Homo sapiens: one gene and its partners. The protein of the gene in region 1 purifies or fractionates together with the protein of each later gene. This does not show direct contact. Each region holds a gene or a part of one and is shown in the gene's direction. Other genes may lie near its edges.

Region 1 (3,500 bases):
AACCTCTGCCTCTCAGGTTCAAGCCATTCTCCTGCCTCAGCCTCCCAAGTAGCTGGGATTACAGGCACACACCACCATGCCTGGCTAACTTTTTTGTATTTTTAGTAGAGACGAGTTTTCTCTATGTTGGCCAGGCTGGACTCAAACTACTGACCTTAGGTGATCCACCCGCCTTGGCCTCCCAAGATGCTGGGATTACAGGCATGCCTAGGCGGCTATAAGTATTTTGCTTTATTTCTGGGTTATCTGTTGTGTTCCATTGGTCTTCATGCCTATTTTTATACCAGTACCATGCGGTTTTGGTAACTGTAGCCTTTTGTATAATTTAAAGTCGGGTAATGTGATGCCTCCAGATTTGTTTTTTGCTTAGTCTTGCTTTGGCTATGTGGGCTCTTTTTTGGTTCCATATGAATTTTAGGATTGTTTTTTCTTGTTCTGTGAAGTATGATGCTGGTATTTTGATGGGAATTGCATTGAATCTATAGATTGTTTTGGTCAGTATAGTCATTTTCACAATGTTGATTCTTCCCTTCCATGAACATGGGATGTGTTTCCCTTTGTGTCATTTATGATTTCTTTTAACAGTGTTTTGTACTTTTCCTTGTAAAGATCTTTCACTTCCTTGGTTAAGTGTATTCCTAGGTGTTTTGTTTTTTTTGCAGCTATTGTAAAAGGGATTGAGTTCTTGATTTGATTCTCAGCTTTGTCGTTGCTGGAATATAGCAGTGCTATTGATTTGTGTCATTGATTTTGTATCCTGAGACTTTACTGAATCGTTTATCAGATCTCGGAGCTTTTTGGATGCGTCATTAGGGTTTTCTAGGTATACAGTCATATCATTGGCAAACAGTGGCAGTTTGATTTCCTCTTTTCCAATTTGCATGCTCGTTATTCCTTTCTCTTGTCTGATTACTCTGGTTAGGACTTCTAAATTTTTTAATTACTATGGGTACAAAGTAGATACAGATATTTATCAGGTACATCTGATATTTTGATACAAGCATATGTTGATACAGGTATACAGTGTATAATAAATCAGGGATACTGGGGTATCCATTACCTCAAACTTTTATCATTTCTTTGTGTTAGGAACATGCCAATTCCACTTTTATTTTATTTTATTTTTTATTTTTTGAGACAGAGTCTCGCTCTGTCGCCCAGGCGACATACATAGTACAGTAGTGTACTCCAGCCTGGGTGACGGGGAGACTCTGTCTCAAAATAAATAAATAAATAAATAAATCTGTTCAGACTAATGTCCTAGAGTGTATTCCCAATGTTTTCTTCTAGTCGTTTGTGGTTTCAGGTTTTAGATTTAAGTCTTTAATCCATTTTGATTTGATTGTTGTACATGGCAAGAGGTAGGGGTATAATTTTATTCTTCTGTATATGGATATCCACTTTTCCTAGCACCATTTAGGAGACTATCCTTTTCCCAATGTATACTTCGGTGCCGTTGTCAAAAATGAGTTGACTGTAAATGCATGGATTTATTTCTGGGTTCTCTATTGTGCTCTATTGTCTATGTATCTGTTTTTATACCAGTATTATGCTGTTTTGGTTACTATCACTTTGTAGTATAATTTGAAGTGAAGTAATGTGATTCCTCCAAGCCTCGTTTTTTTTTTTTTTTTTTTTTTTTTTTTTTTTGAGACAGAGTCTAGCTCTGTCGCCTAGGCTGGAGTGCAGTGGCGCAATCTTGGCTCACTGCAACCTCTGCCTCCCTGGTTCAAGTGATTCTCCTGCCTCAGTTTCCCGAGGAACTGGGATTACAGGTCCCACCACCACGCCTGGCTAATTTTTGTATTTTTAGTAGAGACGGGGTTTCACTTTGATGGCCAGGCTGGTCTTGAACTCCTGACCTCAGGTGATCCGCCCGCCTTGGCCTCCCAAAGTGCTGGGATTACAGGCGTGAGTCACTGTGCCCAGCCTCCAGCCTTGTTCTTTTTGCTCAGGATTGCTTTGGCTGTTCTGGCTCTTGTGGTTCCATATAAGTTTTAGGATTTAAAAGAAAAAATTCTGTGAGGAATGTCATTTGTAGTTTGATAGTAACTGCATTGAATCTGTAGATTGCTTTTGGTAGTATTAAAATTTTAACAGTATTGATTCTTCCAATTTATGAACATGAAATATCTTCCCATTTGTGTGTGTGTCCTCTTCAATTCGTGTCATCAATGTTTTGTAGTCTGTAGACATCTTTCACTTCTTTAAGTTTATTCTTAGGTATTACATCTGTAGCTATTGTAAGTGGGATTATTTTCTTGGTTTCTTTTTCAGATATTTGCTGTTGGCATATAGAAATGGTACTGATTTTTGTATCCTGCAACTTCAGTGAATTTGCTTCCATTCTGATAGTTTTTTGGTGGAGTATTTAGGGTTCTCTCTATATAAGGTCATGTCATCTGTAAAGAGGGACAGTTTTGACTTCCTGTTTTCTAATTTGCATGCCTTTTATTTCTTACTCATGCTTAATTGCTCTAGTTGGTACTTTCCAGTACTTTGTTGAATAAGAGTGGCGAAAGTGGGCATCTTTGTCTTGTTCCAGATCTTTGAGGAAAGGCTTTCAGGTTTTCCCTGTTCAGCATGATAGCTCTGTGTCTGTCATATATGGCTTTTATCATATTGAGGTATGTTCCTTCTATACCATTTTTGAGAGTTTTTATGAAGCAGTGTTGAATTTTAGTAAATGCTTTTTCATCATTAATTGAAATGATCATTTTATTTTCCTTCATTCTTTTGAAATGATGTATCACCTTGATAGATTTATGTATGTTGGACTATCCTTTCATACCTGGATGAATCCCACTTGAACATGATGAATGATTTTTTTGTTTTTAATTTTTTTGAGACGGAGTTTTGCTCTTGTTGCCCAGGCTGGAATGCAATGGCGCAATCTTGGCTCACCGCAACTTCCGCCTCCCGCGTTCAAGCGATTCTCCTGCCTCAGCTTCCTGAGTAGCTGGGATTACAGGCATGCGCCACCACGCCTGGCTAATTTTGTATTTTTAGTGGAGACGGGGTTTCTTCATGTTGGTCAGGCTGGTCTTGAACTCCTGACCTCAGGTGATCCACCCGCTTTGGCCTCCCAAAGTGCTGGAATTACAGGTGAGAGCCACTGCGCCCGGCCGATGAATGATCTTTTTTAAGACCTCCTTCCTGAAGGAGGTTTGCTAGTATTTTGTTGAGGATTTTTGCATCAATGTTCATCAGAGATATTGTCCCATAGTTTATTTTGTTTTTCTCCATGCTAGTTTTAGGTAATTTTTCTCTTAAATAAACAAAGCATTTTCCTCCTAAAGTGCAAGCATGCTTATTAGAAAAGATATGGAAAATTCAGAATAGCATAGTAAACAATGTGATATCACTTAAAATCATTACCTAATATAAATTTTATTTACATTGAGGTCAGTATTTATTGTTTTTCAGAGTTGAAATTACCCTACCTATACATGTTATATCCTACTTTGATTTTTAAAAAAATTAGCATGCTTTAAGCCCTG
Region 2 (3,228 bases), on another chromosome or scaffold:
CCGTGTGTGAGCACATGGGCGAGAGTACGTGAGCACATGGGTGAGAGTGAGCACGAGTGTCCGTGTGTGAGCACATGGGTGAGAGTGAGCATGAGTGTCCATGTGAGTGTGAGCACATGGGCGAGTGAGCACGTGAGTGTGGCACATGGGCGAGAGTGAGCACGAGTGTCCATGTGAGTGTGAGCACATGGGCGAGAGTGAGGGTGCATGTTCATGTACTGGGAAAGGCGGGCTGGCGGCACCACTCTGGCTTAGTTCTCATTTTAACTCTGAAAGTCAGAGGTCATGTTTCATGAAGCCTGAGAGCTTCACGGAGCTCCAGCCTACCTGGCCACCCTGTGGTCCATCTTCCTGGAAGCCCCGCCCACCTTTCTCCCTTGCGGGAACCCCGCCTGTGTCAGGATGTTTTTCCAGATTTGTTTTCTTTGTTAAAGCACGTTCTTTTGCAGCTTTCTAAGAAAAGGTTTTGCAGGAGGTAATTTTTGGGGTCTTGTGCCCCTGTTCTGTCCTTGGATCATTTAGCCGGGTATAGCATGCACCATTATGCCCGGCTAATTTTATTTTGTTTGTTTTTTTGAGAGAGTCTTGCTCTGTCGCCCAGGCTGGAGTGCAGTGGTGCGATCTTGGCTCACTGCAAGCTCCGCCTCCCAAGTTCATGCCATTCTCCTGTCTCAACCTCCCGAGTAGCTGGGACCACAGGCGCCCGTCACCACACCAGGCTAATTTTTTGTACTTTTAGTAGAGATGGGGTTTCACCGTGTTAGCCAGTATGGTCTTGATATCCTGACCTCGTGATCCGCCTGCCTCGGCCTCCTAAATTGCTGGGATTACAGGCGTGAGCCACCACGCCTGGCCTAATTTTTGTATTTTTAGTAGAGATGGGGTTTCACCATGTTGGGCAGGCTGGTCTTGAACTATTGACCTCAAGTGATGAGCCTGCCTCAGCCTCCCAAAGTGCTGCGATTACAGGCGTGAGCCACTGTGACCTTGTGTGCACGATCTGCTTTTTCTCGTTGGCAGCTTTTCAAGCTCTCTTTGTTCACTGTGTTAGGGGTTCCATGTGCTTGGCCTTGATGGGGGTCTTGGTTCTTTGTGCTGGATACTTGGTTCTACTAAGAAAATATACCTTTGGTGATTTTTTTCTCTCTCCTTTCTTATGTTTCTTTTTTGGTGTGCCCATGAGCCTGTCCTGATGTCTTGTGGAGTGACCCTCTAATTATGTTCTCCAAATTTTCTTTTCGATGTTTTGTTTTATTTTTGGGAGATGTTCTCATTTACCAGCCAGTCTACTGAATTTCCACCCTCAGTGTTTTGTCTTTTGTTTGCTGTTTCCCGTGTGCCTCTCGCCAGGGGCTTTCCGTGGGTGGCTGGTCATCCTGGGCTGGGCACCAGGTGCAGAGTGAGGCCCGGGAGCCCTGGACAGTGAGCCCTGCAGGCCGAGTCATGGCTGCGTTTCTCGAGGGCTTCCTCCTGATGGGGGATTTTCAGTTCCCTGCCAGGGGACACCATCCTGGCTGCCAGGACCTTGTGGGTGTTCCAGATGTGGAGAGGAACCTTGGGTCCTGGTCACTGCAGACTTGTTCCCCCTGAGCCACTCACAGGGTGGGGGTCCTGCAGCTTCCCTGGCCCCCACCTTGGAGAGGTCCAGTGCAACTCCTTGGCCCTGCTGTCCGGCCTGTGGCGGCTCCACCCCGGGAAGTGGGTGTTGGGTCTTCTCTATCCCATCCTCTTTTGTCTGACCCGTTCTCTTGTCTCTCTCTGGAGCCTAAAGTCTGTTGTCCACTCTGTTCTTGTCTTGGTACCCTCCATACCCTCGTTTCCCCACAGCTGCTCCTCAGTCTCTGGCTGGCTTCTCCTTTGAAGCCCACGCAGCCAGACGGTGTCGAGGTGACAAGGGGGTGGGTGTGGCTCTCTGGGTGGACGACATCTCTCTCCTGTCCTTTCTCCTCCCTGCAGAAGATCTCAGGCGAGTGAGGCTGCTTGTGCCTCGCTTGTCTGTGCCTTCCTTGTCCGTGGTGGGGAACCTGCCCAGGGCCACAGGGACGGTGAGCCTTGGGGACGGCCCCACCTGAGGGTCCTGAGTTGCCGAGCACAGGTGTCCGTCGCGCCCCCCAGGCCCAGGCCTGCTCTGCCGGTCAGTGCGGTGCCAGGCACGCCCGGCACCCTGACCCCCGCCCTGCTTCACCCAGGTTGGCCGACTGCGATGTGAGTGACAGCAGCTGCAGCAGCCTCGCCGCAACCCTGTTGGCCAACCACAGCCTGCGTGAGCTGGACCTCAGCAACAACTGCCTGGGGGACGCCGGCATCCTGCAGCTGGTGGAGAGCGTCCGGCAGCCGGGCTGCCTCCTGGAGCAGCTGGTGTATGTGCACGCGCTGGGCGGGTGGTGCGGCCAGGGCTGCCCAGGGAGGAAGGCGGGGGTGGGGGAGGACACGGGCCCATGCCTCCCTTCTGGCCTGTGTGCAGCCTGTACGACATTTACTGGTCTGAGGAGATGGAGGACCGGCTGCAGGCCCTGGAGAAGGACAAGCCATCCCTGAGGGTCATCTCCTGAGGCTCTTCCTGCTGCTGCTCTCCCTGGACGACCGGCCTCGAGGCAACCCTGGGGCCCACCAGCCCCTGCCATGCTCTCACCCTGCATATCCTAGGTTTGAAGAGAAACGCTCAGATCCGCTTATTTCTGCCAGTATATTTTGGACACTTTATAATCATTAAAGCACTTTCTTGGCAGGAGAGGCTCTTGTCCTTCCTGGGGTCCTTGCGAGGCGCTGGCATTGGAGACGACACCACCCCACTTGGCTTCTCTCCCTGCCTAAGGGACCCCGCACCAGGGAAGCAGCCCAAGGCCCTGGCTGTGCTCAGCTGGGTCCCCTGAGCTGCACCCACCCACACTGGGGAGCACAGGGCAGGCCCTGCCCAGGGTGGAGGGATGCCCCTTGGCTCTGTTGCCCGTGCAGGGTGACGCCTGCTGGGAGCTGCCTGCAGGCCCAGCTGCTCCCGCAGCTTCCACCCCGGAGCCTCAGGAGCCCCCAGCACTGCCCTGACTGCCCCCCAGCCCAGCCCAGCCCAGCCCAGCCCAGCCCAGCCCAGCCCAGCGCGGCCCAGCGCGGCCCGGGTTCCTGCCCGGAGCCCAGTGCTCGCCCCAGCTCTGTGTGGGATGATGGGGCAGCCCATCTTGCCCACGGGTGGACAGCTGACCAAGGTGGGCCAGCCCGGGGTGCCCTGCCCTG
Region 3 (3,166 bases), on another chromosome or scaffold:
AGATTGTACCTGGGAAGCTGCCGTCCTTGTGACCCAAAGAAAAGAACAAGGCAGAACCAGGCAATGGCTCTCAAAGCCTCCACCTTTTTACACCACATTTCATTGACCAAAGCAAGTCATATGACCAAGACAGATGTCAGTGGGTCGGAAAGTTGCATCCCTCTGCAGGAGCAGGCTTGGTAGGGATGAGCTCCGTAGGAGAGGCAGAGGATATATAACCTAAAAAACACAATCTATTAAGTCCATTTAAATTTTACCTTCTGTATGAGAGTACTTGGCTTTGCTATTATGAGGGTCCACCAAAAAATGATGAGAAAAGTTCCAGGAAGATGATCAGATGCAATAAGGAAGCTCATGCTAGAATTGAGGAATTAGAAGCAGAACTGAAAATAAAAGTATAATGTAGAGGTCAGGCACAATGGCTCATGCCTGTGATCCCAGCACTCTGGGAGGTCAAGGCAGGCAGATCACTTGAGCCCAGAAGTTCAAGACCAGCTTGGGCAATATGTTAAAACCCTATCTCTCCAAAAATACAAAAAATTAGCTGGGCATGCTGGCACACACCTGTAGTCCCAGCTACTCAGAAGGCTGAGGTAGGGGGATCACTTGAGCCTGGAAAGCCAAGGATGCAGTGAGCTGTGATCATACCACTGCACTCCAGCCTGGGCAACAGAGTGAAACTCTGTCTAAAAAAAAAAAAAAAAAAAAGTATAACATAGAGATAAAGTATACTTCAGAACAAGGAATATTACCAGGAATAATGAGGGATAGTTCATAATGAAAAATGAGTCAGTTCATCAGGAGGCCTGAAACTCCTAAATATGTCAGAACCTAATAACAGAAATTTTTAAAACTTAAAGCAAAAACAACTGAAAGAGAAACAGACAAATTCATAATGATAGTTGGAGAGTTCAACCTGATCTATCAGTAAATGAAAGAACAAGTGACAGAATCAGTAAGCATATAGAAAACTTAGTACTGTGAACCAAATGGATCTAGTTGATACTGACAGAACACTCTATGCAACAGAAGCAGAATACACATGCTTTTTCATATAGACTGTATTCTAGAACATTAAATAAATGTAAATAACTTTTAAAGAACTGCAGTCATACAATGTACTTTGATGAAAAAAAAATTAAAACCAGAGATCAGTAACAAAGAGATATATAAAATATACTCAAATATTTATAAATACACATGACTGCAAATTAAATTATACTTCATGAAAATTTGTGGGGTACTACTAAAGTGATGCTTGAAGGGAAATTGTAGCAAAAATGGCTATATTAGAAGATGGTTCTCAAATCAGTGACCTAAGCTTCCACCCTCAGAAGTTAGAAGAGCAAATTAAACCCAAAACAAGCAGAAATAAGATAATGATGAATTTTAGAGCAGAAATCAATGAAATATTTAGCAAAAAGTAATAAGAAAAAAAATTGAAGCCACAAGCTTATTATTTAAAGAGGTCAATAAAATTGATAAACATTTTACCAGACTAATTAGGATATTAAGAGATTAAGCACAAACTATGGATGTTAGAAATAAAATAAAGAACTTTACTACAGATCTTACAGACATAGTAAGAATAATTTTTTAAAAAGTAGGACTGGGTGGTTTTCTTGAGAACAAGGCCCTGTGCTCCCATGAGAATGGACAGAGTTGGAATATAAGGCATCTGAAGGGCCCTAGAGAGGAGTAAGGGGAGGGGCTTCCATTGAGGAAAGCAAGTTACTTCTGTCCCCCTCTTCTAAATTTGCAAATTATTAGCGTGCTTTCCCACTTTCTGCTCCTTTTTAACCTCCCATCTTTCATACCATCCTTCACCCACCTTCAAGTATTAGCTTAACAGGGATGTGGGTGGTGTCAAGCAAAACCATTTCTTGGCCTTTCCTGTCTCACTGCTAAGCTCAATTCTAGCGTCCTGTTTGTTTTCTTTTGGTAAGTTTTCCCTCTCTCCACTCTAATCCTGCTCCAGTCATTCTTGGTTATGTATGTGTGTACTAACTTTTGATTTGGAAGTAATTTCAAAGTTATCAGAAAATTTGCAAGAATAATAGAAATTTTGAACCCAATAAACATTTTGCCACATTTGCTATTTGCTTTTCCATTTTCTCTGTCTCTCTCTCACTGACACACATTCACACACATTCTCTTACATTACTATAGTACAGTTAACAAATGTAGAACTTTAATATTGACATAGTCCATATTTCAGTTTAGCCAACTATCACACTATCTTTTACAGCAATTTTGTTTTTCTCAGGATCCTGCATTCCATTTAGTTGTCCTGACACTTTAGTCTCCTTTAATCTGAAACAGTCCCCTCTGCCTTTCTATTTTTTCCCTGATATTAATTTTTTTTAAGAATACAGTCCAGTTGTGTCGTAGGATCTCTCTCAATTTGTGTTTCCCTGATGGTTCCTTGTAATTAAATTCACATTACTGCATTTTGAACAGGAATATAGAGTCTTGTTTTAAAATGAATTTATATTGCTAATTATTTGTCTGTTTTGTGTTTGTTTTGTTTTGTTTTCATTTTAGAAAGCGGCCTCTTACACTGAGGAAGATGAAAATCACACAGCCAAAGATTGCCTTCTGGTTTATTCTCAGGAAGAAACTGAATCGCTGAATGCTTCTATTGGTTGTTGCAGTTTTATTGAAGGAGAGCTAGATGACCGCTTCTTAGATGATTTGGGACTTAAATTCAAGACACTAGCTGAAGTTTGCCTGGGTCAAAAAATAGATATAAATAAGGAAATTGAGCAGAGACAAAAACCTGCCACAGAAACAAGTATGAACACAGCTTCACATTCACTCTGTGAGCAAACTATGGTTAATTCAGAGAATACCTACTCCTCTGGCAGTAGCTTCCCAGTTCCAAAATCTTTGCAAGAAGCCAATGCAGAGAAAGTAACTCAGGAAATAGTCACTGAAAGATCTGTGTCTTCTAGGCAGGCGCAAAAGGTAGCTACACCTCTTCCTGACCCAATGGCTTCTAGAAATGTGATAGCAACAGAAACTTCCTATGTCACAGGGTCCACTATGCCACCAACCACTGTGATCCTGGGTCCTAGCCAGCCACAGAGCCTTATTGTGACAGAGAGGGTGTATGCTCCAGCTTCTACCTTGGTAGATCAGCCTTATGCTAATGAAGGTACAGTTG
Region 4 (3,500 bases), about 68 Mb from region 1:
AAGGCTGAACTTTCAAAAGCCGGCAAGAGTATCTTGTGTTATCTGGGCTTTGTTCCTTTCACACACCCATGACTTTTCCATAGGAAACCAGAAGGAAGAGGGCGAAACTCAGATTAGCTGATCTGAGATATTTAGGATTCTTCTCCTTTGTGCTTCTGTGTATCTTAGTGGTAAGCTAACTCAACACTAAGCTTTCTGAAGCCTTGGGAATCACTGGGCTCAATCATGGTGTTACTGGAAGAACATTGGCTTTGAAGACTCAGATGGGCCTAAATTTTACTCTGGGTCCCCAATTTACTATCATTGGTACCTTGGGAAAATGGCTTCTCTTAAGTCTCCATTTTGTCTTTTATAAAATTATGGGTGGTAATAATTATATCAATGAAATATTGAGAGGATTAGAGGTGATATATGAGTCTGATTCTTCCATTGAAACCTGGCAGGGTTGAGTGCCGTGATCTCTAAACTTCTGTCTGGCTTAGATTCCATAACTTGTGATTTGTAATATGATGTTGCATTTCTTTTTTTTTTTTTTTTTAATTGATCATTCTTGGGTGTTTCTCGGAGAGGGGGATGTGGCAGGGTCATAGGATAATAGTGGAGAGAAGGTCAACACGTGAACAAAGGTCTCTGGTTTTCCTAGGCAGAGGTCCCTGCGGCCTTCCGCAGTGTTTGTGTCCCTGGGTACTTGAGATTAGGGAGTGGTGATGACTCTTAACGAGTATGCTGCCTTCAAGCATCTGTTTAACAAAGCACATCTTGCACCGCCCTTAATCCATTTCACCCTGAGTTGACACAGCACATGTTTCAGAGAGCATGGGGTTGGGGGTAAGGTTTATAGATTAACAGCATCCCAAGGCAGAAGAATTTTTCTTAGTACAGAACAAAATGGAGTCTCCTATGTCTACTTCTTTCTACACAGACACAGTAACAATCTGATCTCTCTTTCTTTTCCCCACATTTCCCCCTTTTCTTTTTGACAAAACCGCCATCGTCATCATGGCCCGTTCTCAATGGTCGCTGTCTCTTCGGAGCTGTTGGGTACACGTGCAGAAAGGCTGTCACTTCACACTTGGAAGATTGCACAGCGGCCAGGCAGAGGCGCTCCTCACTTCCCAGACGGGGTGGTGGCCGGGCAGAGGCGCTCCTCACTTCCCAGACAGGGTGGCCGGGCAGAGGGGCTCCTCACATCCCAGAGGATGGGCGGCCAGGCAGAGACGCTCCTCACTTCCTAGATGGGGTGGCAGCTGGGCAGAGGCTGTAATCTTAGTACTTTGGGAGACCAAGGCAGGTGGCTGGGAGGTGGAGGTTGCAGCGAGCCGAGATCACACCACTGCACTCCAGCCTGGGCAGCATTGAGCATTGAGTGAGCAAGACTCCATCTGCAAACCCAGCACCTTGGGAGGCTGAGGCAGGCAGAACACTCCAGGTCAGGAGCTGGAGGCCAGCCCGGTCAACACGGCAAAACCCCTCTCCACCAAAAATACAAAAACCAGTCAGGCGTGGCCGCACGTGCCTGCAATCCCAGGCAGTCGGCAGCCCGAGGCAGGAGAATCACAGGAGCCCGAGGCAGGGAGGTTGCAGCGAGCCAAGATCACGGCAGTACAGTCCAGCCTCAGCAACAGAGGGAGACCGAAAAAAGGAGGAGAGAGAGGGGGAGAGGGAGAGGGAGAGAGATGTTGCATTTCTTTCCGTATGAAGTCTTTAAAAGAACCTTTCATAGCATGCACATTACAGAGTTTAGGAATTCTGCCTTTGAGAATAGTTCATGTGTTCCTTTTTTCTAATTGCAGTTTTTCCACTACTCCCAAGGGCAAGTGTACCTTGGGAATTATCCACCATTTAAAGACAGAATCAGCTGGGCTGGAGACCTTGACAAGAAAGATGCATCAATCAACATAGAAAATATGCAGTTTATACACAATGGCACCTATATCTGTGATGTCAAAAACCCTCCTGACATCGTTGTCCAGCCTGGACACATTAGGCTCTATGTCGTAGAAAAAGGTACTTCCTTGAGTATTTTGGCAGTAATAATGCAGTCTCCTTTATCTCATGTTTGGTTGGAAAACATGAGTTGCATTTCATGGTGGGTTTGGAGGGAGGATTTTTGCCATACAGTTGTGCTCCCTGTTGCCACGAACCTGTGGCTCTACCAAACACACTTGGAGCTGGGAAACTTGTTGCTCATTCTGACCCAGAGTGGCTGATTTCTCCATTTTTATTCCTACCGTCTGGTGCCTATTGGTCTAATTTCAGGAGTATGAATTTTTCAGTGTTAATTAGAAGAAAGACCAAATTCATTATGTTTGGATGTGATGGGCAGTGGGAAAGAAGGAGATTCATACTGTTTTATATTCTCCAGGAGAAAGCTTTCAACAACAGCACAGTTATTTCTTCCTTTTGATTTTGAGAACAAACAGGAAATGCAGGTTCTGGTGTCTCATTTTTGAGACAAAGTCTGTTTTGTTGGAGAGTAGATCCAGGTAAATTCACACCTCCGGTTTTTCTTTAGAGCACTGAGAGGGATTGTAGGTGTAGAAATGCTTAGTTCCATAGTTCATTCTTTCTCATCTAATATTCACATGTCATGAATTACATAGTAATAGGATAGATAGTAGGATCTCATAGTTTGGATAATAAAAGAGGGTACGGTAACTGCTAAATGAAGATACTTGCTCGTTAATTTAATAAAATTCCATGTTTTCTCTCTGTAGCAATGTACCTTAAAACTATTTTGTTCTTTCTCTCTAGAGAATTTGCCTGTGTTTCCAGTTTGGGTAGTGGTGGGCATAGTTACTGCTGTGGTCCTAGGTCTCACTCTGCTCATCAGCATGATTCTGGCTGTCCTCTATAGAAGGAAAAACTCTAAACGGGATTACACTGGGTAAGAAACACTGTTTTTTTAGGGCAGGGGTGGAGGGAGGGAATCAGGGTTTATAGAAACTTCTGTATTTAATGAAAAAAGGATTTTAAAGAATTAACTACTATTTTCTTTCATGTCAGAATCAGGCAGTCTCCTTAGGAGGTGTTCTAACATGGGCAAGTGGAAATCAGTGGGCCTGCTATTAAATGTGGAATATGATTCTAATCTCTGTTCCAGTTTCCTTCTTAGGTTTGGTGAGATGAGCTGCTCAGCAGTCTGTGCTCTGTGTTTCAATACCATCCACTATGCAATTAGTATTCTTAAGACATCACTTACCCAATTTAAGAGTTTAATTTCAATTTCTTGCTAATAAACTCACAAGGTGGTTCTTTCCAGTTAGGAAATATAAAACCCTAATTAAGAAGTTGTGAGCTGGAATTAGTGGCATGTGCCTGTAAGTCCCAGCTACTTAGGCTGTGGCAGGAGGATTGCTTGAGCCGAGGCGTTTGAATCTAGCCTAGGCAACATAGCAAGATCCTGTCTCTTTAAAAAAAAAAAAAAAGAAAGAAAGAAAGAAGAAGAAAAAGCAGTGGTTTTAATAAACTACCTCCCCCAGCCCAGTGTGATGATGGTG
Region 5 (3,500 bases), on another chromosome or scaffold:
TTTGCATGCAGGGTTGGTATATTTTGTAAAAACTTAAATTCATCTTAAGAAATGCAAATGCTAAGGTTCACCCTCAGAATCTGATTAAGGAGGTCTGATTATATATGAAATACATACTAGAAAGTATGTATACTTTCTTTTTTTTTTTTTTTGAGACACAGTCTCACTCTGTTGCCCAGGCTGGAGTGCAGTGGCACAATCTCAGCTCACTGCAACCTCTGCCTCCCGGGTTCAAGTGATCCTCCTGCCTCAGCCTCCCGAGTAGCTGGGATTACAGGCGCCCGCCACCATGCCCAAATAATTTTTGTATTTCTAGTAGAAATGAGGTTTCACCATGTTGGCCAGGTGAACTCCTGACCTCAAGTGATCCGCTCACCTTAGCCTCCCAAAGTACTGGGATTACAGGCATGAGCCACCGCGCCCAGCTGAAAGTATATATACTTTCTAGTTTGTGATATATTCTAAAGTATATCTAAAGGTTGGTATTTTGGCATTTTGAGGTCCCAGAACTGAAAACATAAATAGTTTTTTTTTTCATATGAATGTAGGTCCTATGAATCACTTTTATTACCGCAGTGTGGTGCATAATCAAACAAGGAGGACTTAGTTGTCTTAAAAAATTATTTTTGCTTTCATGTTCAGATTGGTATCCAGTTGAAAGTATTTTTCAACTTCAAAAATGGGAAGTCTGGGCAACAAATGAGATATTTGTGGGTTGTAATACAGTATAAAATTGTGATTCCATCTTTTAATCTTACAAATAACAATTGTTCTATAGATATGTGAGTCTTTTTAAAAAAAAATTTTTAGCATCACTTCTCAAAAATGTGAGCATACCACATTTTGTTTTTATTTTTCTTTTGCTCTATGATAAATTTCCACATTGAAAGACAACTCTTAAGAAATAGGAGCTCATAGTTTCTCTGTGTGATGGAATATAAGTTAAATCCTGTTTTTATCTTTCTGTCTTAAGTTTTTAATTTTATTTGGGGGAAATAAGACTGTTAGGAATTAAGTGTTAGCATCACTAACAATCTAGGGTTAAAGCTATAGCTAGAAACAGCCCAGTTTTTAACTGGAAACTAGTGGTAGAAAAGTTCTTTGCTATTACTTGCCAGTTTCCAAAAACTGTCTTGATACATGCATAAAAACAGCATATTTTAGAAACTCTTATAACCGGTGATTATCATTTATCTGTAGGTTATCCTTGAGAACTCAGCCTGAAAGATAGATAACCAGAGAGATTGGTTATAAGGAAATTATATAGAAAATAAGTGGTAATTTTCTGCTCAGTAATTCAATCATACAGCTATCTTTTGAATGCCCATTTACAAGTAGATTTTCTGCTAGACACAGTTACATTAAAAAAAAAAAACCCACAACCTCGTCATCAGATAATGCTTACCTAAATAAGAGAAATGAATAGAAGAACCTAGTTTTGTTGTCATGCTAATATGAAATATGGAAACACAGAAGAAATAAAAAAGCAATAAAGTTTTGTCTAAGACAGTATTCTAATTATGAAATAAATGTACAGAAACTGTTCATAACTGTTTGCATGTCTACTAATTTAGTGTAATACTCCTATTAGGAAACAGCAGTATTAACCCTGTCTATGAAAACATTAGGAAATTGAGATTTGAAAGAGTTTAGCCAAGATTACCCCAGATGTTGGGATGGACCTAGATGAGGCCTGTGGTTCTTGGCAGTCGAGGTGAGGTCAGTGCAGCTATGTTTTGTCAATTAGTCACCTCATGACTTGAAAACTGTAGGGCAGCAGTCCCCAAACTTTTCGGGACCAGGGACCACAGTCGGGGGGATGTATGTATACTTTCTAGTTTGTGATATATTCTAAAGGGGAGAAGGTTTGGGGATGACTCAAGTGCATTATATTTATTGTGCACTTTATTTCTATTATTATTGCATTGTAATATACAATGAAATAATTATACAACTCACCATAATGTAGAATCAGTGGGAGCCCTGAGCTTGTTTTCCTGCAAGTAGACAGTCCCATCTAGGAGTGGTGGGAGACAGTGACAGATCAGGCATTAAATTCTCAAAAGGAGCACACAACCTAGATCCCTCACATGCGCAGTTCACAATAGGGTTCGTGCTCCTATGAGAATCTAATGCCACCACTGATCTGACAGGAGGTGGAGCTCAGGTGGTAATGCTAACGATGGGGACTGACTGTAGAGATGAAGCTTCACTTGTTTGCCTGCTGCTCACTCCTGCTGTGTGGCCTGATTCCTAACAGGCCAGAGACTGGTACTGGTCTGTGGCCTTGGGGTTGGGCAAACCTACTGTAGGGGGCTGGAGTTGAGCTGATACTACTAGGCCTTTCCATAGTATAATTGGAGCAACCAGAAAGACACAGTCTTTTATTTATTTATTTATTATTATTTTTTTAATTTGAATCCGTAGATAAATTTCAGCAACTTTTCTGAAAGTTTGCAAGAAGCCAGGATTGAGAATGAAGGGACATTTTGGAGCCCTTGTGGTGGTACAGTTCTTTTTATATCTAGATCTTGACCTAGATCTACATATGGCCGTTATAGAGAGTGTTGCTTATTGCCTTGGTGTTTCTGGACAGTAAATGGAACATCAAGAGTTCTCTGTGTCCATGGAAGGGTGGACAGGATTCCCTTGTAACCTTATCCATTGTTGTAATTCATTTGTGATTGTCCTAGCAGCACCTGAAGGACTTTGCATTTTACAAAGATGTTTAGAGAAAATTGGAAGAGGAGAATCAATGATGAAGATGAAAGAAATGTGGAGATTGGGGGTAAAGGAAGAAGCTGATAGGCAGAGATTTTAAAAATGGTCATGCCTTGATCCTTGCAAGTCTTTGGTTCAGAAATGAGCTTCAGTTGGAGAGCAGGACACTGTTGTATGAGGTTGAAGACAGAGTCTAGGTTGGAAGGGGACAGGTAGGTAGGTCTGGTTGGATTAATGGAATTGGGGGCTCAGGGGACAAATGAGTTAAGATTGGCATTTGGGAGCCTTGCCAAGAGATAGAAAACATTTGCCAGAAATTTAAGCATACTGTCTTTTTTATAGTCAGAAAATTCAGTCACTCGTAAGTTGGGACTGTTCACTTGTCTGAATGTTTTAGATTTAAAGAAAAAATATAGCTCTTTGATAAACAACGTGGTGTGGAGCTGTGGTAAGCCTGCTCTTGCTCCTGACTCACCGCCGCTCGCTCTCACCAAAAAACAGGTTGGTCAGGAGATACAGAAAAACGCCCATGAAGCCAGAGGTGGCAATTCACTGAATTAGAATCACTCTAGGCCCAGCGCGGTGGCTCACACCTATACTCCCAGCACTTTGGGAGGCTGAGGCAGGCGGATCACCTGAGGTCAGGAGTTTGAGGCCAGCCTGGCCAACATGGTGAAACCCTGTCTCTACTAAAAATACAAAAATTAGCTGAGTATGTTGGCACGTGCCTGAAATCCCAGCTACTCGGGAGGCTGAGGCACAAGAATCACTTGGACCCA
Region 6 (4,124 bases), on another chromosome or scaffold:
TACTTGCTCAATGTCCAGCTGACTTTATTTGAGTCTAGTTGTCAGTCCTTCTCCCTCTGATATTCAAGCTGATGTCACCACACTGTAGAGCAAACTCTTTGGCAACAGTAAGTCACAAGTTGACTTGGCTGGCTCAGTGTATATCCCAGTTTCTCTCCAACTCTGGCTTGGAAGTCTCAGAGCCTCTTGGTTCCTGGAAGTCTCACCTGTCCAGGCTACCTTAAGTAGGGTGGGGATGGTGGGCGATACTGAAAAGATCATTCCTACACACTTATTATTTTAATCTCTCATCACTTTGCAATTATGTACTTCAGACATGGTAGAGTTAATTTATCTTTAGTGAGAGAAAAATATAGTTCTTTACTATAAGAATTTCAGGGTTCTTTATATTAACAGGTTAATTTGACAAAACAGTTATTGCAGACTTACTGTGTTACTGCGTAAAAAGCACTTTATTTGGCTGAGAAAACAAGAAAGAAAATACTATTTGTGGGCAGGGGTGGATCGTTAGACATGTGAAAGAAAGGGAGGATTTGAAATCATTTCCCATTACAGATCTCAATCCATCTCCTCCTTTGTACCTTAAGAGGAGAAAGAAAGGGGGAAAAGAATTTTTAAAAGCAAAGAAGAGGAAGAGGGTAGGAGGACCATTTCAGTCTAACATGCAATTTAATTTTTTCCATTTAACAAGTTTTATGGAGCAGTTACTTTGAACATAATTATACACTGGGAAATGGAGAATGAGTGAACACCAAAGCTTCTCTCTTTGGATTCTTTTCTCTACATGCTCCATGTCCTTCTCACAATACCCCTACTCCACGGCCAGTAAATCCATCTGAAAATCAATAATAGCTATTGTAAACAAGGACTCAAGAAGTGAAATATTTGTTTTAATATCTTTGTAAATAACAACTCCCACATTTAGACCACGACTATATTTGGAATTTATTTCCGTTGACCTACTTAATTCTTACCTGCTTATATTTAAGTTTAAAACATAATCTTCTTAAAAGAAAATTGCACTGATTTTAAAATGTCAAAACATTTGGCATTTTACCAAGCTTGTCAGCTCTCTTTAAGTAAATACAGAGACGTGAATTATCTAGCCAATTCTTTTTCGTCTTTACAAACACAGAAATCATTTCCTGGGGATTAATCATTCTTTCAAGTTTAGAAAGTTGAAGGAAAATACTGATGTAGGCTGTATCACCATTACATTAAATGTTTGTGAACATTCAGACTTAAAAAACACATGCATGAATCATACTGTTGGTGATCTCAGCATTGTCTCTGTATAAAAGAAAGGCCACTAGGGGGTAGAGCTAGAAGCCCAGTAGACAAAGAAGGTAAGGGCAGTGAGAATGATGCATCTTGCATTCCTTGTGCTGTTGTGTCTGCCAGTCTGCTCTGCCTATCCTCTGAGTGGGGCAGCAAAAGAGGAGGACTCCAACAAGGATCTTGCCCAGGTAATTAACGGTGGCATCTATTGCAGCTACTGGCCAGCTCAATTGTGTCTACTTGGTCTTCCAATACAAAGCAGAATGATTAGACTAGAGATCACTTTGTTAGAAAACTGTAGCATCAGAGAATAATTAACAGGCTGGAGGTGGAAATTATTTTTATGTTAACAGAGAAGAAAAGAAAGGTTCAGAAAGGGAATATAACTGCTCAAGGTTACAATAAAATAGTAGCAGTATATTTGTGGCTAAGTGAAAAGAACATATGGAGAATATATGAAACTCCTCTGGCTTTAGAATTTATTTAGTTAAAATTATTGGGGAGGGGAGCATGCTAAGTTTGATCTTTAAATCATATCAGGTAATAGTTTTCATATTTTTACTTGTCATATTTGGACAAAAGAGTTTACCACACTTCAGTCTTAAACCAGGTCTATAATAACAATGTAAGTAGAAAAGGTTAGTATTCTAACTTTTCACAAAACTATGTTAAAAGAGGGTTTCTTTAAAAACTAACAAAAATAATGCTAGACTTGAATTTTCAATCCCCAATTCCTTACTTGACTAGCAAACTAACATTGCAATAAAATTTAAAAATTTGTATGAAATGGGGAGTCTTAATGAAAAATCAAATTAAATGTGATAGCCTCTTTTGTTTTAAGAAACTAGAGGAAAATTACGATGGATTATAAAAGTTGGATAAATGATGGAAAATCACAAAAATGCCCTAAAAATTCTATTTTCCATTAGCAATACCTAGAAAAGTACTACAACCTCGAAAAGGATGTGAAACAGTTTAGAAGAAAGGACAGTAATCTCATTGTTAAAAAAATCCAAGGAATGCAGAAGTTCCTTGGGTTGGAGGTGACAGGGAAGCTAGACACTGACACTCTGGAGGTGATGCGCAAGCCCAGGTGTGGAGTTCCTGACGTTGGTCACTTCAGCTCCTTTCCTGGCATGCCGAAGTGGAGGAAAACCCACCTTACATACAGGTAATGGTTCAGATTAGTTTTCACATAATATTGAAACCTTATAAGTTACTCGTCATATTTGGATAAGTAACATAAAGTTTTCTTTAACAATTTTTCATAAAGGCAGGAGAAAATAACATCCTCTTCAATTTTTCTCCTCCAGGATTGTGAATTATACACCAGATTTGCCAAGAGATGCTGTTGATTCTGCCATTGAGAAAGCTCTGAAAGTCTGGGAAGAGGTGACTCCACTCACATTCTCCAGGCTGTATGAAGGAGAGGCTGATATAATGATCTCTTTTGCAGTTAAAGGTAATCAAATAAAGCATCCATTTATCTGGTGTATTCATCTGTTCAGACTGCTATAGCAAGTTACCTTAGACTGGGTAATTTATAAACAACAGAAATTTATTGCTCACAATTCTGGAGGCTGGGAAGTCCAAGATTAAGGTGCCAGCAGATTTAGTGTCTGATGAGAGCCTATTCCTCATAGATGGTACCTTCTGTGTCCTCACACGATAGAAAGGGCCAGGAGGTTCCCTCAAGCTTCTTTCATAAAAGCACTAATCTCATTCATGAGGGCAGAGCACTTACGACATAATCACTTCCTAAAGACCTAACCTCTTAATACTATATTTCATTGGGCATTGAGTTTCAACATATGAATTTGCAGCAGACACCAACATTCAGACTATAGAATCTACTGTTGTTTAATTGGAACAGGGTAAAAAGAAATTCTGAACACTTATATTTCCATTAATTTGTTCCCTATCAGAACATGGAGACTTTTACTCTTTTGATGGCCCAGGACACAGTTTGGCTCATGCCTACCCACCTGGACCTGGGCTTTATGGAGATATTCACTTTGATGATGATGAAAAATGGACAGAAGATGCATCAGGTGGGTCGTAAACCTCTCGGGAACATTTCAGGAATAATGTCCAATCCTACCCAAAAATAATTGGATTATCTAGAACGAGCAATAAATCGAATATACTAGTAACTGAATTTTTTTATTACCTGAGTTTTAAACAGAAGTACTGTTTGTTTCAATCATTATTGAAGAATTTTATAAAATGTCTGTATTTTCATGTTTGCCCCCACCAAGTACAATATTGTAAAAACCATTCAACCTCATCTCCACAACTCAGGATCTTGTGGGGGTTTGAGGATCAGCATAATTAATAATGTTTTTCATCACTTTAATGATAGATGATTAGGATAGAATGAATTCCATTAAACCAGTTCCAATCCTAACATTTGCCCTCAGGTTTTCTTTCTTTCTTCTCATTGGCCTCCTTTTTACTTAAAAGTAGAGATCAGGAGAAAATGCCAGGAACTGAAAAAAAACTGTTAGGTCATCTTTTCGAATAAACATGTCACTGTCTCTAGCTTAGATGGGTTTTTTTCGCCCTAAATTGGCTTGGAAACACTTTACATCTAAACATAATGACTAAAATTAACTGTATGCTATTTAATTTTTAAAATGGCTTCTGAAGTTTAGAAACACACTGTTGAAATAATCACTATTTCTGACAGTGCCTGGGATTTTTAATGTAAATGCAAAGAACATCTTTCCTGAGTACAAGACTCAGGAGGCTGAGGCACGAGAATCACTGAACCCAGGAGATGGAGGCTGCAGTGAGCCGAGATTGTACCACTGTACTCCAGCCTGGGCAACAGAGTGAGACTCTGT
Region 7 (3,500 bases), on another chromosome or scaffold:
TCCAATATTGGTTGAAACCCCCAAAGTTGATAAAATTAGTTCTACAATGTTGCATCTCATTGTATCAAATTCTGCTTCAAGTGAAAACATGCTGCACTCTACATCTGTACCAGTTTTTGATGTGTCGCCTACTTCTCATATGCACTCTGCTTCACTTCAAGGTTTGACCATTTCCTATGCAAGTGAGAAATATGAACCAGTTTTGTTAAAAAGTGAAAGTTCCCACCAAGTGGTACCTTCTTTGTACAGTAATGATGAGTTGTTCCAAACGGCCAATTTGGAGATTAACCAGGCCCATCCCCCAAAAGGAAGGCATGTATTTGCTACACCTGTTTTATCAATTGATGAACCATTAAATACACTAATAAATAAGCTTATACATTCCGATGAAATTTTAACCTCCACCAAAAGTTCTGTTACTGGTAAGGTATTTGCTGGTATTCCAACAGTTGCTTCTGATACATTTGTATCTACTGATCATTCTGTTCCTATAGGAAATGGGCATGTTGCCATTACAGCTGTTTCTCCCCACAGAGATGGTTCTGTAACCTCAACAAAGTTGCTGTTTCCTTCTAAGGCAACTTCTGAGCTGAGTCATAGTGCCAAATCTGATGCCGGTTTAGTGGGTGGTGGTGAAGATGGTGACACTGATGATGATGGTGATGATGATGATGATGACAGAGGTAGTGATGGCTTATCCATTCATAAGTGTATGTCATGCTCATCCTATAGAGAATCACAGGAAAAGGTAATGAATGATTCAGACACCCACGAAAACAGTCTTATGGATCAGAATAATCCAATCTCATACTCACTATCTGAGAATTCTGAAGAAGATAATAGAGTCACAAGTGTATCCTCAGACAGTCAAACTGGTATGGACAGAAGTCCTGGTAAATCACCATCAGCAAATGGGCTATCCCAAAAGCACAATGATGGAAAAGAGGAAAATGACATTCAGACTGGTAGTGCTCTGCTTCCTCTCAGCCCTGAATCTAAAGCATGGGCAGTTCTGACAAGTGATGAAGAAAGTGGATCAGGGCAAGGTACCTCAGATAGCCTTAATGAGAATGAGACTTCCACAGATTTCAGTTTTGCAGACACTAATGAAAAAGATGCTGATGGGATCCTGGCAGCAGGTGACTCAGAAATAACTCCTGGATTCCCACAGTCCCCAACATCATCTGTTACTAGCGAGAACTCAGAAGTGTTCCACGTTTCAGAGGCAGGTTAGTTACGGATCAGAAGGACAGATTGAGGTGTGGTGGTTTGCTTGCTCTAAAAGTAAAATGAAAATTATAGAAAGATAGAAATTTGGTAAAATGGTACATCATCATTTTTAAAATCAAAACATTCAACAAATCAGTCTCCAGTTTCTGAAGTATAATTTTATTTATTATTTCAAACAATTATTTAACACATTTTGGTTTTTAATTTAATTCTCTCCAAAATAGACAAAACAATTTTTATTTATTGTCAATATTTCATACTCTACAGGATGTCTTTTATGGGTGGGGGCAATTCTGTTTGCATAATACATTTTTAGTACACTGCTTTTAAAGCAAGATCAGAGTATGCTATTTTAGATGATTTTAATTTTCATACTTTTGTTCTAAAATAAGTTGTAAACTAATTCTATTTAATTATAAAATGAATTATTAAATCTGAGAGTAATGTGACATAAGCACTTCTCTCTGACACACCCCTGTAGAAAGGAATTAGTTAATTTCCACATTCATATCAGCTTGGGGAGCTTTATTTATTATTATTATTTAATTAATTAATTAATTAATTTTGAGACGGAGTCTCGCTCTGTCGCCCAGGCTGGAGTGCAGTGGTGCAATCTCGGCTTACTACAAGCTCCGCCTCCCAGGTTCACGCCATTCTCCTGCCTCAGCCTCCCGAGTAGCTGAGACTACAGGCGCCCACCACCACGCCAGGCTAATTTTGTGTATTTTTAGTAAAGACGGGGTTTCACCATGTTAGCCAGGATGGTCTTGATCTCCTGACCTCGTGATCCACCCGCCTCGGCCTCCCAAAATGTTGGGATTACAGGCGTGAGCCACTGCACCAGGCCAGGGAGGTATTTATGTATTTATTTATTTATTTAGTTTTATTACTAAGTTTTGAGAGTTAATAATGAAGTTAAAAAAAATTTTAATTTTTTTGTCTTTCTTTATCTTAATGTTGCCTAAAGAGGGCAGTGTAAACCATCAAAATACATTTTACTTTATGCCTGCTGTTACACACTTTTTTAAGTTAAATAATGGGCATTAATATGTACAGTATGTATAGGTATTGTATCACAAGATGTAAAACACTAAACATTTTTCTGTAGAAATGAATTTCATTTGTGAATGTATTTTATGCAAATTAGCTTACTGACCAGATGTTTCTTAGAGCAGATTATGTGCAGTGTTTATAATACAGATGTCTGCTTTAAATGCCAATGGAAAGAAGAGGGAAGTTCAATCCTATTAAGTATAGAAAAGTAATACTTTCATTGAATTGGTCATAAGAATTTTATAATTTGCTTTTATTAAATGTGAACGTATCTTAAAGTTTAATAATGAAACTATTTAAATCTTAACATCAAGTTAAATGATAGGCTAATGTAACAAAATGCACTCATTGTATAAAAGTGAATATTTGTAATCCAGAACATAGACATCAGTCTCATTAGAATATTTTTCCTCTTTGCGATTTCATCTTTTTAATTAGTTGTATATTTTTTCTTCAGTGCAGCAGCAATTAAAAGTTTGTACATTTTGATAGAAAACTTTTTCTGTATTCTGAATTGATACCTATTTAACATTGCATTTTAAACACTTAAATGCTGATATGTGAGAATGAATAATGAATCCATAGGTCACTATAGTCATTAGTGCTGTCATATATATGAACTGTTATCTGTTCTCAATTATAGTAGCTGCTTTTTAGTTTTCATTAGATTTATGTTAAAAGAAAATATCAGGAATCCATCTATCTGTCTTACCAGGTAGTGACATTGATACGTTCTTGCTAGACTATGCTATTATAGAAGGATATATATAATGAGATGCTAAACCTAAAATTATTGACTAAAGCTTAGCAAATTTCTCTTCAGTGCACTAATTAGTTTTATTTAATTATCAAGAGTGTGTTCTCCCACTAATTAGGATAAAACAATATGAATATGACATCCAACATTATCAAGTAACATAATTAGTGAAGTAAATAAGATCAAACAAGATTAGGGGAAAATTCTGGCCTATTTTTAAAACTGTATCTATAAAATCATATGTAATCTGTCTTATCCAATAATTGAATATATCCCTTTATCAAATGCATGCAGACTAGCTCTGAAACTTAAGATTTTATGGTGTATTTCTAGAATGCAGAACAATTTACAGGATGTGTTCTTTAAAATACTATAGATAAGGCAAATATTAGTATCCACAATTTATAAATGAGTACACTGACACCCAAAGATACTAGATTATTTGATCCAGGTCACATGA

Evidence for each region.
Region 2: the proteins of SLC71A1 (region 1) and RNH1 purify together in Homo sapiens (affinity purification with mass spectrometry; one large-scale study listed by BioGRID and IntAct). This does not show direct contact.
Region 3: the proteins of SLC71A1 (region 1) and DSG2 purify together in Homo sapiens (affinity purification with mass spectrometry; one large-scale study listed by BioGRID and IntAct). This does not show direct contact.
Region 4: the proteins of SLC71A1 (region 1) and MPZL1 purify together in Homo sapiens (affinity purification with mass spectrometry; one large-scale study listed by BioGRID and IntAct). This does not show direct contact.
Region 5: the proteins of SLC71A1 (region 1) and LNPEP purify together in Homo sapiens (affinity purification with mass spectrometry; one large-scale study listed by BioGRID and IntAct). This does not show direct contact.
Region 6: the proteins of SLC71A1 (region 1) and MMP10 purify together in Homo sapiens (affinity purification with mass spectrometry; one large-scale study listed by BioGRID and IntAct). This does not show direct contact.
Region 7: the proteins of SLC71A1 (region 1) and PTPRZ1 purify together in Homo sapiens (affinity purification with mass spectrometry; one large-scale study listed by BioGRID and IntAct). This does not show direct contact.

The regions. Positions count from the first base shown.
Region 1 is NC_000001.11:100,044,595-100,048,094, forward strand, and holds part of SLC71A1 (hippocampus abundant transcript 1 protein), read left to right. Parts: intron 1-3,500.
Region 2 is NC_000011.10:494,015-497,242, reverse strand, and holds the end of RNH1 (ribonuclease inhibitor), read left to right. Parts: intron 1-2,189; coding exon 2,190-2,360; intron 2,361-2,464; coding exon 2,465-2,552; 3' UTR 2,553-2,728; downstream 2,729-3,228. UniProt on the Homo sapiens protein: Ribonuclease inhibitor which inhibits RNASE1, RNASE2 and angiogenin (ANG). May play a role in redox homeostasis. Required to inhibit the cytotoxic tRNA ribonuclease activity of ANG in the cytoplasm in absence of stress.
Region 3 is NC_000018.10:31,543,177-31,546,342, forward strand, and holds part of DSG2 (desmoglein-2 preproprotein), read left to right. Parts: exon of another isoform or gene 1-219; intron 220-2,544; coding exon 2,545-3,166.
Region 4 is NC_000001.11:167,770,482-167,773,981, forward strand, and holds part of MPZL1 (myelin protein zero-like protein 1 isoform a precursor), read left to right. Parts: intron 1-1,793; coding exon 1,794-2,007; intron 2,008-2,754; coding exon 2,755-2,887; intron 2,888-3,500. UniProt on the Homo sapiens protein: Cell surface receptor, which is involved in signal transduction processes. Recruits PTPN11/SHP-2 to the cell membrane and is a putative substrate of PTPN11/SHP-2.
Region 5 is NC_000005.10:96,939,080-96,942,579, forward strand, and holds part of LNPEP (leucyl-cystinyl aminopeptidase), read left to right. Parts: intron 1-3,500. UniProt on the Homo sapiens protein: Release of an N-terminal amino acid, cleaves before cysteine, leucine as well as other amino acids. Degrades peptide hormones such as oxytocin, vasopressin and angiotensin III, and plays a role in maintaining homeostasis during pregnancy.
Region 6 is NC_000011.10:102,777,829-102,781,952, reverse strand, and holds the start of MMP10 (stromelysin-2 preproprotein), read left to right. Parts: upstream 1-1,324; 5' UTR 1,325-1,361; coding exon 1,362-1,466; intron 1,467-2,207; coding exon 2,208-2,449; intron 2,450-2,591; coding exon 2,592-2,740; intron 2,741-3,203; coding exon 3,204-3,329; intron 3,330-4,124. UniProt on the Homo sapiens protein: Can degrade fibronectin, gelatins of type I, III, IV, and V; weakly collagens III, IV, and V. Activates procollagenase.
Region 7 is NC_000007.14:122,012,661-122,016,160, forward strand, and holds part of PTPRZ1 (receptor-type tyrosine-protein phosphatase zeta isoform 1 precursor), read left to right. Parts: coding exon 1-1,229; intron 1,230-3,500. UniProt on the Homo sapiens protein: Protein tyrosine phosphatase that negatively regulates oligodendrocyte precursor proliferation in the embryonic spinal cord. Required for normal differentiation of the precursor cells into mature, fully myelinating oligodendrocytes.